Linked DNA regions of Homo sapiens. The protein of the gene in region 3 interacts with the protein of the main gene of each other region in a pairwise test. Each region holds a gene or a part of one and is shown on either strand. Other genes may lie near its edges. The genes, in order: STX8, MARCHF5 and SGPL1.

Evidence for each region.
Region 1: the proteins of SGPL1 (region 3) and STX8 interact in binary tests that used the Homo sapiens proteins (3 or more experiments, as listed by UniProt).
Region 2: the proteins of SGPL1 (region 3) and MARCHF5 interact in binary tests that used the Homo sapiens proteins (3 or more experiments, as listed by UniProt).

Annotation. Positions count from the first base shown.
Region 1 is NC_000017.11:9,544,794-9,548,446, reverse strand, and holds part of STX8 (syntaxin-8), read left to right. Parts: intron 1-3,164; coding exon 3,165-3,275; intron 3,276-3,653. UniProt on the Homo sapiens protein: Vesicle trafficking protein that functions in the early secretory pathway, possibly by mediating retrograde transport from cis-Golgi membranes to the ER.
Region 2 is NC_000010.11:92,346,583-92,350,235, forward strand, and holds part of MARCHF5 (E3 ubiquitin-protein ligase MARCHF5), read left to right. Parts: intron 1-2,766; coding exon 2,767-2,950; intron 2,951-3,088; coding exon 3,089-3,255; intron 3,256-3,653. UniProt on the Homo sapiens protein: Mitochondrial E3 ubiquitin-protein ligase that plays a crucial role in the control of mitochondrial morphology by acting as a positive regulator of mitochondrial fission and as an important regulator of immune response.
Region 3 is NC_000010.11:70,818,894-70,822,546, reverse strand, and holds part of SGPL1 (sphingosine-1-phosphate lyase 1), read right to left. Parts: intron 1-3,653. UniProt on the Homo sapiens protein: Cleaves phosphorylated sphingoid bases (PSBs), such as sphingosine-1-phosphate, into fatty aldehydes and phosphoethanolamine. Elevates stress-induced ceramide production and apoptosis.

The DNA.
Region 1 (3,653 bases), on a different chromosome or scaffold from region 3:
TTGGTTGAACCTGTTTGCATTCCTATCAAGAATGTATGAGGTGGCCGGGTATGGTGGCTCATGCCTGTAATCCCAGCACTTTGGGAGGCCGAGGTGGGTGGATCACTTGAGGTCAGGAGTTCGAGACCAGCCTGGACAACATGGTGAAACCCCATCTCTACTGAAAACACAAAAATTAGCTGGGCATGGTGGCATGTGCATGTAATCCCAGCTACTTGGGAGGCTGAGGCAGGAGAATTGCTTAAACTCTGGAGCTGGAGGTTGCAGTGAGCCAAGATCATGCCACTGCACTCCAGGCTGGGCGACAGAGGGAGACACTGTCTCAAAAAATAATAATAATAATAAAGAAAGAATGTATAAGGTCAGGTGAAGTGGCTCATGCTTGTAATCCCAGCACTTTGGGAGGCAGGAGGGTCACTTTAGATTAGGAGTTTGAGACCAGCCTGGCCAACATGGTGAAATCCTGTCTCTCAAAAAAACCCACAAAAATTAGCTGGGTGTGGTGGTGGACACCTGTAATCCCTGCTACTTGGGGAGCTGAGAGGAGAATTGCTTGAACCCAGGTAGTGGAGGTTGCAGTGAGCCAAGGTTGCAACACTGCATTTCAGCCTGGGATGATAGAGCAAGACTCCATCTTAACAAAACAAAACAAAAAAAAAAAAAAGAAAAGAAAAGAAAAGGAAAGAATGTATGAGAGTGTCTGGTTCCTTGTCCCTTTCCAAAACTGTCTTCTCAGTTTCCTAATCTGATAGGTGGAAGTGGTATCTTGTTTTAGTGTGTATTTCTTTTCTTTTCTTTTCTTTTTTCTTTTTTTTTTTTGAGACGGAGTCTTGCTCTGTCACCCAGGCTGGAGTGCAGTGGCACAGTCTCGGCTCACTGCAACCTCCGCCTCCCGGGTTCAAGTGATTCTCCTGCCTCAGCCTCCTGCGTAGCTGCGATTGTGCGCCACCATGCCCAGCTAATTTTTGTGTTTTTAGTAGAGATGGGGTTTCACCATATTGGTCAGGCTGGTCTCGAACTCCTGACCTCGTGATCCACCTGCCTTGACCTGCTGGGATTACAGGCGTAAGCCACCACACCTGGCCAGATATATTTTAAAAGTGTTTGTTAGCTTTCTCCACTCATTCATTTTATGGCAGAAGTTGTTTCCAAACATATCCTTTACTGTGTTTCTTTTTTCTTTTTTTTTTTTTTTTTTTTGAGACAGAGTCTCGCTCTTTCACCAGGCTGGAGCGCAGTGGCGCGATCTCGGCTCACTGCAACCTCCGCCTCCCGGGTTCAAGCGATTTTCCTGCCTCAGCCTCCCGAGTAGCTGGGACTACAGGCGCACGCCACCACGCCTGGCTAGTTTTTATATTTTTAGTAGAGACGGGGTTTTACCGTGTTTGCCAGGATGGTTTCCATCTCTTGACCTTGTGATCCGCCCACTTCAGCCTCCCAGAGTGCTGGGATTACAGGCGTTGAGCCACCGCGTCCAGCCCTTCTGTGTTTCTTAACATACCACACACATAGACACAGTTCAGCCTAAAAACAAACAAACAAAAACTTGTGTCTGGGCGCACTGGCTCACACCTGTAATCCCAGCACTTTGGGAGGCTGAGGTGAACGGATCATGAGGTCAAGAGATCGAGACCATCCTGGCCAACATGGTGAAAACCTGTCTCTACCAAAAATACAAAAAATTAGCTGCGCGTGGTGGCACGTGCCTGTAGTCCCAGCTACTCAGGAGGCTGAGGCAGGAGAATCGCTTGAACCCGGGTGGCGGAGGTTGCAGTGAGCCGAGATCGCGCCACTGCACTCCAGCCTGTAGACAGAACAAGGCTCCGTCTCCAAAAAAAAAAAAAAAAAAAAAAAACCACTTTTGTAGTTTGCATCAAGAAAGCTAGTATATAAAACTTTGTACTTAGTCCAAGGGAAGTGGCGCCGGTTGTTGACAGACGCCACTTCCCTTTTTGCTTCATGCGCACGCGCCGCATTCTCGTCCACCTATTGGTGAATTGTAGGTTTCTTTCCAAAGACTACATTTCCCAGAAGGATGGTTGTTTGGTTTTTTTTTTTTAACCATCACTTATGAATTGTTGTGGAAAAGATGTTAGAGACTATTTAGTGTTACATATAAAGAAAGAGAGATCCCAAAAGGTGAAATAACTGGTTCAAGAGCATAGATAGTGGAATAGGGCTACAACTCTGCCTCTGGGGCTCCTAGTCTAGCGTGTTTGCTAGATTCACACATTAAAATGATTCTCTTTGTAATTTTCTTTACAAATCATGCAATGTATTTAAATAGTGAACTGATGGTAACAATTTATAGAGCAAATCTGTTGCATAAAGTAGCACTTTATAAATATCCTAGGTGTGTTAATAGATATTAACATGGAAGAAAGAGAGCAATATAGAGAACTTCTCTCCCCCAGCGCCCCCACTTTTTTAAACAGAGCATCTTAGGGTATTAATATGTAGGAAAATGCCCTGGAACACTGACACACACATATAACTCAAAACCTAAGGAATCACTGAGCCAGGTTGCACCATTGGCAGGAGAAGTCATTTAAATTTGGTCACTGGGGCTGGGCGTGGTGACTCACGCCTTGTAATTCCAGCACTTTGGGAGGCCAAGGCAGGCAGATCACCTGAGGTCATGAGTTCGAGACCAGCCTGGCCAGCATGGCAAAAACCCGTCTCTAATAAAAATACAAAACTTAGCCGGTTGTGGTGGTGCACGTCTGTAAGCCCAGCTACTCGGGAGGCTGAGGCAGGAGAACTGCTTGAACCCGGGAGGCAGAGGTTGCAGTGGGCCGAGATCGCGCCATTGCACTCCAGCCTGGGCGACAGAGCGAGACTCTGTCTCAAAAATAAGTAAATAAGTTTGGTCACGGGGAGGAAAGTAATATTTACCTGGTATATTTCTCAATGAAAAACTTGTGTCATGATCCACGTCAGTGTTTATAAGTGCCTCTGCGATGGTCCTGCCAAGGTCCTTTACCTGACGGCCTGGTGAAGGTGAAGGTCAGAGCAGGAAAAACGCAAGAGTGGTGCGCATCCCTTCTGGGTAGTAGTGATTACAGTCTGTAAAAGCCACAACTGACTTGAAGAGCTAACTTAATAATGTAATAGTTAAAACGAGGTCATTTATTCACCATTGAACCTTAACAAGATATCTGCAGAACACAGCTTGAAGGGGACCGAAGACAGAACCTCTTGGATGATCTTGTAACTCGAGAGAGACTACTTCTGGCATCCTTTAAGAATGAGGGTGCCGAACCAGATCTAATCAGGTAGGATGTTTTTATTTACAGGGATTACTTGGTGGGCGAAGACTTCTTTGCAGATACTACAGCTGTTTCCTGAATGGCTTACTTTAGGAATTAATCAAAATCTATTCTATTCATTTATGGTGTTTGACTATAATTTTCTACTCAATTTAGTTTTCGTTAATTTTTGTTTGTTTGTTTGAGACAGAGTCTCGCTCTGTCACCCAGGCTGGAGTGCAGTGGCGTGATCTTGGCTCTCTGCAAGCTCCACCTCCCAGGTTTCCACCATTCTACTGCCTCAGCCTCCCAAGTAGTTGGGATTACAGGCGCCCACCGCCACCGTGCCCGACTAATTTTTTGTATTTTTAGTAGAGATGGGGTTTCACCGTATTAGTCAGGATG
Region 2 (3,653 bases), about 22 Mb from region 3:
GGTTCAAGCGATTCTCCTGCTTCAGCCTCCCGAGTAGTTGGGATTACAGATGACCACCACCACGCCTGGCTTGTATTTTTAATAGAAACGGGGTTCCACCATGTTGGTCAGGCTGGTCTCAAACTCCTGACCTCAGGTGATCCGCCTGCCTCAGCCTCCCAAAGTGCTAGGATTACAATTGTGAGTCACAGTGCCCAACCCCTACTTCCTTTTTGTTTCCTTATTCTTAAACACCTTATAAGGTTTTTACTGCTACCCATGAGAAACAAACTTCCTCTTGTTCGCTCTAGTCTATACCTGAATATTCACTCTTCTTTATATTTCTAAACCCAAAAAAAGGACACATAACCCGACAAAGGATTTTTTCAAATATTCTGAATTTATTTGCTAACACTTTGAGAATATTTAATCATATTTAGTTATAATGTTAGAGTGATCATTATATTGAAATTTTTAATGATATAAAAATAGAATTTCTTAGCCAGACGTGGTGGCACTCATCTGTAGTTCCAGCTACTCAGGAGGGTGAGGTGGGAAGATTGCTTGAGCCCAGGAGTACAAAGCCAACCTGGGAAACGTAGCAAGACCCTGTCTTTTTTTTTCTTTAAAGGAATTTCCTGGCCGGGCGTGGTGGGTCACGCCTATAATCCCAGCACTTTGGGGGGCCAAGGCAGGCGGATCACCTGAGGTCAGGAATTCGAGACCAACCTGGCTAACGTGGTGAAACCCCATTTCTACTAAAAATACAAAAAAGTAGCCAGGTGTTGTGCCATGTGCCTGTAATCCCATCTACTCAGGAGGTTGAGGCAGAAGAATAGCTTGAACTCAGGAGGTGGAGGTTGCAGTGAGCCAAGATCATGCCAAGACTGAAACTCCGTCTCAGATAGATAGATAGATAGATAGATAGATAGATAGATAGATAGATAGATAGATAGATAGATGATAGATATATAGATAGATAGATAGATAGATAGATAAAGAAATTTCCTGGGAAATCATTATAGGTAAAACAGTCATGGCCAGCTAACTTTTGCTACCATTATGGAATTGGGGTTTATGAAATATCATAAACCAGACCATTTCACTTTAGGGCAACTCAAAAGGATCACCTTCCACATGCAAGATAGGAAGTTGTTAAGTTCTACCTGGAGACACAGAAGAATATCAAATTCGATGACATTATTGACCATTAGGAAGAGGCTAGCCTCCTGCCCTTTAATATTACATCTTAATTAGATAAATTAACCAAGTGGAAATCTGGACTATATCCATAGCTCAAATTTGGTCCTCTCCACACACTTTCATAAAACATTTCTGGGGCCGGGCGCAGTGGCTCACGCCTGTAATCCCAGCACTGTCGGAGGCCGAGGCGGGTGGATCACCTGAGGTCAGGAGTTCGAGATCAGCCTGACCAATGTGGAGAAACCCCGTCTCTACTAAAAATACAAAAATTAGCTGGGCGTGGAGGTGCACACCTGTAATCCCAGCTACTCGAAAGGCTGAGGCAGGAGAATTGCTTGAACCTGGGAGGCAGAGGTTGCAGTGAGCCAAGATCGTGCCATTGCACTCCAGCCTGGGCAACAAGAGCAAAAAATTCCGTCTCAAAAAAAAAAAAAAAATTTTTGGCCAGGCACGGTGGCTCGCGCCTGTAATCCCAGCACTTTGAGAGGCCGAGGCAGGCTGATCACCTGAGGTCAGGAGTTCGAGACCAACCTGGCCAACATGATGAAACCTCGTCTCTACTAAAAATACACAAATTAGCTGGGCATGGTGGCATGCCCCTGTAATCCCAGCTACTCGGGAGGCTAAGGCAGAAGAATCGCTTGAATCCAGGAGCCGGAGGTTGCAGTGAGCCAAGATCACACCACTGCACTCCAGCCTGGGCAACACAGCGAGACTCCATCTCAAAAACAACAACAAAAAGAGGTAAATTTAAGGCCAAGATTGATGTGGAAGTGAAAAGGATTTTGGAGAGAGGGAAAAGGTAGAAGTTCACAAATGCCAATTTTGTATTTCTCGCCTTCTGGGATCTACACCAATTTAGAAATAGCCCCAAGACTAGGATAGGGTAAGGAAAAGATTGTATTAGCTTCATTACCCCCATAGATAGGGTACCCTAGAGTTCCTGAATTGGGAAAAATGCCTGGGATCTGTAACCAAAACTGGACCTCCTACTACAGTCCCTCAATTCTAGACCTTGGAAGTGCACTTAAGGAGGGTTAGGTCTGTAGGGTAGACACTTAGCCAGCCAGAGACATCACACCCTATCTTACACACCACTAAGTAAGGAGAAAGAGCCAAAGAGAAATGAGCTTTCAGGCCATCTCTTGAAGGCCGGTCCTACCTCTTGGCTGGCTATGCTTAATCTCCTAGAAGGAAGATCAGGAAAACAGTTGTTTTGCTGGAAGACAAATAGGACTTAGAATTATATCCCAGTTCCGTAGCCCAGTCTAACCAAATCAAATAAAGGAATAGAAGCAACAATCAGAGGTCCCCGCCCCTCTATTGTAATGTAATCAGTCTGGGTCAGCCATTTTAATTTTTATTCCTGTGTGGTATGAAATGGCTTGGGAACTTTGTTTTTCCCTTGAATGAGACATTTCTTATAAATAAATCAGGACTGATAGCTTTCCAGCTTATTTTTTAAACTTTTTATTTCTGTGTATTCTTTTGAAATTAAGCATTTTCTATTAAAAAAATAGAGCTTAACATGCAACACCTCATTTGAAAAAGAAGTAATTCTAATATATGCTATCTGTTTCACAGGTTGTAGGTCATAAAGAAGGTCTGGATGTTATGGAGAGAGCTGATCCTTTATTCCTTTTAATTGGACTTCCTACTATTCCTGTCATGCTGATATTAGGCAAGATGATTCGCTGGGAGGACTATGTGCTTAGACTGTGGCGCAAATACTCGAATAAACTACAAATTTTAAATAGTATATTTCCAGGTAAGGCACTGAACTGTGGTTGTAAAGTGCATACCAAATTGATCTTGAAGAACAATAACATGCTTTTTTAGCCATGTTTGAAGGTAGTCTAACTCTTCTGATTTATTAGCACTAACGCACTGCATTTTTTTCCTCTAGGGATAGGTTGTCCTGTTCCTCGAATTCCAGCTGAGGCCAATCCTTTAGCAGATCATGTCTCTGCTACTCGAATCTTGTGTGGAGCCCTTGTCTTTCCTACTATTGCTACAATAGTTGGTAAATTGATGTTCAGTAGTGTTAACTCTAATTTACAAAGGACAATCTTGGTAAGACGGCTTTAACATTACTTATATTACCTTGCAAAAGAGAATGAAGTGTATTTGTTTTTAAAAGGTGGGGAACTGTATAAATATTCGGTCTGTGGCTCCTATGCATTAAGCCTCTATTTGAGCCTCACTATCATTCAATAGCTTGAGTGGAAATAAAAAGAGGAGAAACCACTGCAGCAGTTCTGGCCTTTTGGAACTATGTTGTAGGTGCTTTCTCTCCTGGCATATGCATGAATCATCACACCTGTCCCTCTTGCCAGTGGGATTACAGTACTTTACGATCAGACCACCTGGTTCAAATCCCATCACAGAAATTGTCTTGCTGTGAAATCTAAATCAAATGTCTGGACTTTTTGTTCCTGTAGTATGGTGATGGTAATAATCAGGATTATTGT
Region 3 (3,653 bases):
TACAGACTGATTCACATCAATTCCCTATGGAAATTCTTAAACCCAGGCTGATTCTCAATTCTGCCACCAATGTGCACAAACTGTATATAATATTAGATTGGGTAAAACCTAATTAAGAAGGTAAATATTACTAAAAATTCCTGACACATAGACTGAAAAGCTAAGTCAAATACTGGGATTTGGATTCTATCTGTTTATAACCCTCTTTTCCTTTAAACCAAAGGCTGTGGAAATTATTACAGCTCTGTTTCATCTATAACACTGGGAGATTGCCAAATACAGTGTTCATCCTGCAATGGCCACTCAAATGTCAACAAATTTTTTAATGTCCTATCAACAATCCCAATGAATTTTCCCTTTCTTCTAGCAAATCCTACAAACAAGACACAAGGCTCAAATAATAGAACAGAGCTCCTAAGGTCAATCTTTCAGTTTATTGCTTAAATCCCACTTGAGATTCAGAAAGAAAGCATCCCTGAAAAAGAGTCAAGGGTCACAGATAAAGACGCTCAAGGACCTGGAAAGATTCAATTTTTGAACCCAAAAAACAAAACTGAGGGAAGCTTGCTGTTTGCAAATCAAGAAAAGAGTGGTGCAGAAATGTTGCAAAGGACAGCATTTCTTAAGAATTCTGCATTGCTATAAAAGATCAGCTGCACCATCTCCAATATATATTCCTGAGCAGCAAGGCTTGACCCATGGGCAAAATAACCCCAAGTGAGACAATAACAGACACGTTAACCTCCAAGAAGGGAATCACTCCCCCACCCATATGAAAGCATAGACTACACAGATATCCAGGTATCTATGGTAAGAAACTTCATACCAGTTTCTCAACCTCACCACTATTGACATTCTAGGCCAGATAATTCTTGTTTGCAGGAAACTGTGCGTTGTAAGGTGTTTGGTTGCATCCCTAGCCTCTACCCACTAGATGCCAGCAGAACCCTTCAGGTGTAACAACCCAAAATGTCTCTAGGCATTGTCAAATGTCACCCAGAGGGCAAAATTGCCCCTGGTCAAGAACCACTGCCCTAGATAAGCAATTATCACTCAAACCCCACCTAGCACTACCAGGGTGCACACGCTAACCTTGATTCATCTATGAATATCAGCTAATTTAGTCATCATTTTCTGATGAGAAAAGAAAAAAGCCACCTAAGGGGTAGACTGGCTTTATAAAATACCTTTTTCTTAAAAACTACAAATATTTGGCAACTTGCAAAGTGATACCACCCTCTAGCACCAAGGAGGAGAGTATGAATAAAAAGAATGGTTGCCAAGGGGGAGAAAGGCTGCTACAAAGCTGTCTGACTTGAATTCCCTCTGACATCATCACAACTCTCAGCAGATGAACATACTCATTTTATTCTCTATGAGACACAGGTGGAAAGTACTGCAGTCTATGACACATCACATACGAGCAAATGGAAAAAGGCAAGCAAACTATCCTAATCAAATGATAACAAAATTGAGGGCAGGAACACACTGAGGGCTGATAGCCCGAGCCTGTCAGTCTGGATTCAAGGCTTGTTATATGTGGACTCCAGGTCATCTCCAGGTTTTCTCTCACAGCATACTGTCCACACAAGTAGTCTTCAACTCTATGACCCAATGCCCTCTTTTTATAACAAATATTCTGTAATCCCTTTTGCTACTCTGACATGGCATTTAAAGATTATAACACTATGCCTGCAGATACAAGTTTTAAAATTTCAATATAATTCATTAAATGCGACGTAAAAGAAAATAAAACACAAATTTTTTTTTTTTTGAGACAGTCTCGCTCTGTCGCCCAGGCTGGAGTGTAATGGTGCAGCTTCAGCTCACTGCAACCTCCACCTCCCGGGTTCAAGCAACTCTCTTGCCTCAGCCTCCTAAATAGCCGGGAATACAAGTGTACGCCACCATGCCCAGCTAATTTTTGTATTTTTAGTAGAGACAGAGTTTCGCCATGTTGACCAGGCTGGTCTAGAACACCTGGCCTCAAGTACTCTGCCCGCCTGAGCCTCCCAAAGTGCTGGAATTACAGGCATGAGCCACCACGCCTGACCCAATAAACAAGATTTAATAATAATTTAATAATAAAACATGTATTTTCAGACTACACTAGAAGAAAAAAGACTCCCTCCTCCCCCAGTCCCCCATTGCCAAAGTGCCCCCTAGAGGGTGGAGCTATCCTATCCCATCTGCTCCACACAGACCCTCTCCCATCAGTCACAATGGTCAGCAACCTCTACCCTTACCAGGGGTAAGGACACAAAGTAGGCAAGAGGGAGGGATCTGAAGTCAGACCAACTGAGGTCAAACTTGGCTCCACCACTCAACTGCTGTAGTTACTCTCTATAAGCCTCGTTTTTCATCTGTAAAAGAAGGATACCAAAAGGTTTTTGTGAAAATTAAATAAGTACAGTATTCCTACACTTAACATGTAATACATGCTCAATAAATGTTAGCTATCAGAGTTAACATTACTATTCCTGAATCCACCTTGTATTGTTTCCTAGCTTTTGCTCACTTATTCCATTAGCAGAAAAGACGGGAGACTGGATATCCATTTACCAGAGATACTCTTCAACAGATTCATGTATAATATAAGCTGCATCACAGGCCAGGTACAGTGGCTCATGCCTGTAATCCAGCACTTTGGGAGGCCAAGGCAGGCGGTTGGATCCCTTGAGCCCAGGAGTTAGATACCAGCCTGGGTAACATGGCAAACTACCATCTCTACAAAAAATAAATACAAAAATCAGCCGGGCATGGTGGCATGTGCCTGTCGTCCCAGCTACTCAGGAGGCTGAGGTGGAAGGATCATCTGAGCCTCAGAGATTGAGGATGCAGTAAGCTGAGATCATGCCACTGCACTCCAGCCTGGGCATCAGAGTGAGACCTTGTCTCAAAAAAAAAAAAAAAAAAAAAGCTGCATCCCATGACTTCTAAGACTATTTCTAATTCTGAGATGCTGCACTGCACTGAGGTTATTTTTTTATTCACTTAGGTCCTTTCTTCCCAGGTGGAGGGCCAAGAACATGTTTTACATATCATATAAAGTAGCTTGAGAAACACCTCATAGAATGATGGGTTAGTGTGCCACTGAAAACCCAGCCATGGTTATTGGTTCTTTACCAGTTAGTTCCAAATAGCATTATACATTACAGTCAAGGAATGAATGACAACTTTTCCAGTGAAAGCACTTCATGCAACATGTATGTTGTCTTCAGAAAGTGATGACTGCCTAGGGCCACTCGCATCTATGTGGATTAATTCCTTACAGCAACAAGCAAAGCAACACTCCTAAACATTCTAAATTAACAGGTGAGGAGGTGAAAGGTGGTGGCAACAGCTAGAGAAATACCTCAAAAGAAAACTGATTCCAAAGTTAATATTCCGAGTAAAAGCAGTCATTGTTCTGTTAAAGTAAATGCATAGGCCCTATAAGTAATAACCATATCTCTGTGCATGGGGAAATATCTTACATATAAGAACCTATAATTTACATAAACATATCCTTCTGTAAGAGGATAAACAGAAACTGTCAATTGCTACAAGTCACTCTGCATTAACCATCCAAGATGCTCACAGCGGTTATTTCTGGGTGATAAATTACTGCACGGGGTAGAGGCGAATGAAGGGGATGTAGGAGATAGGGGAGA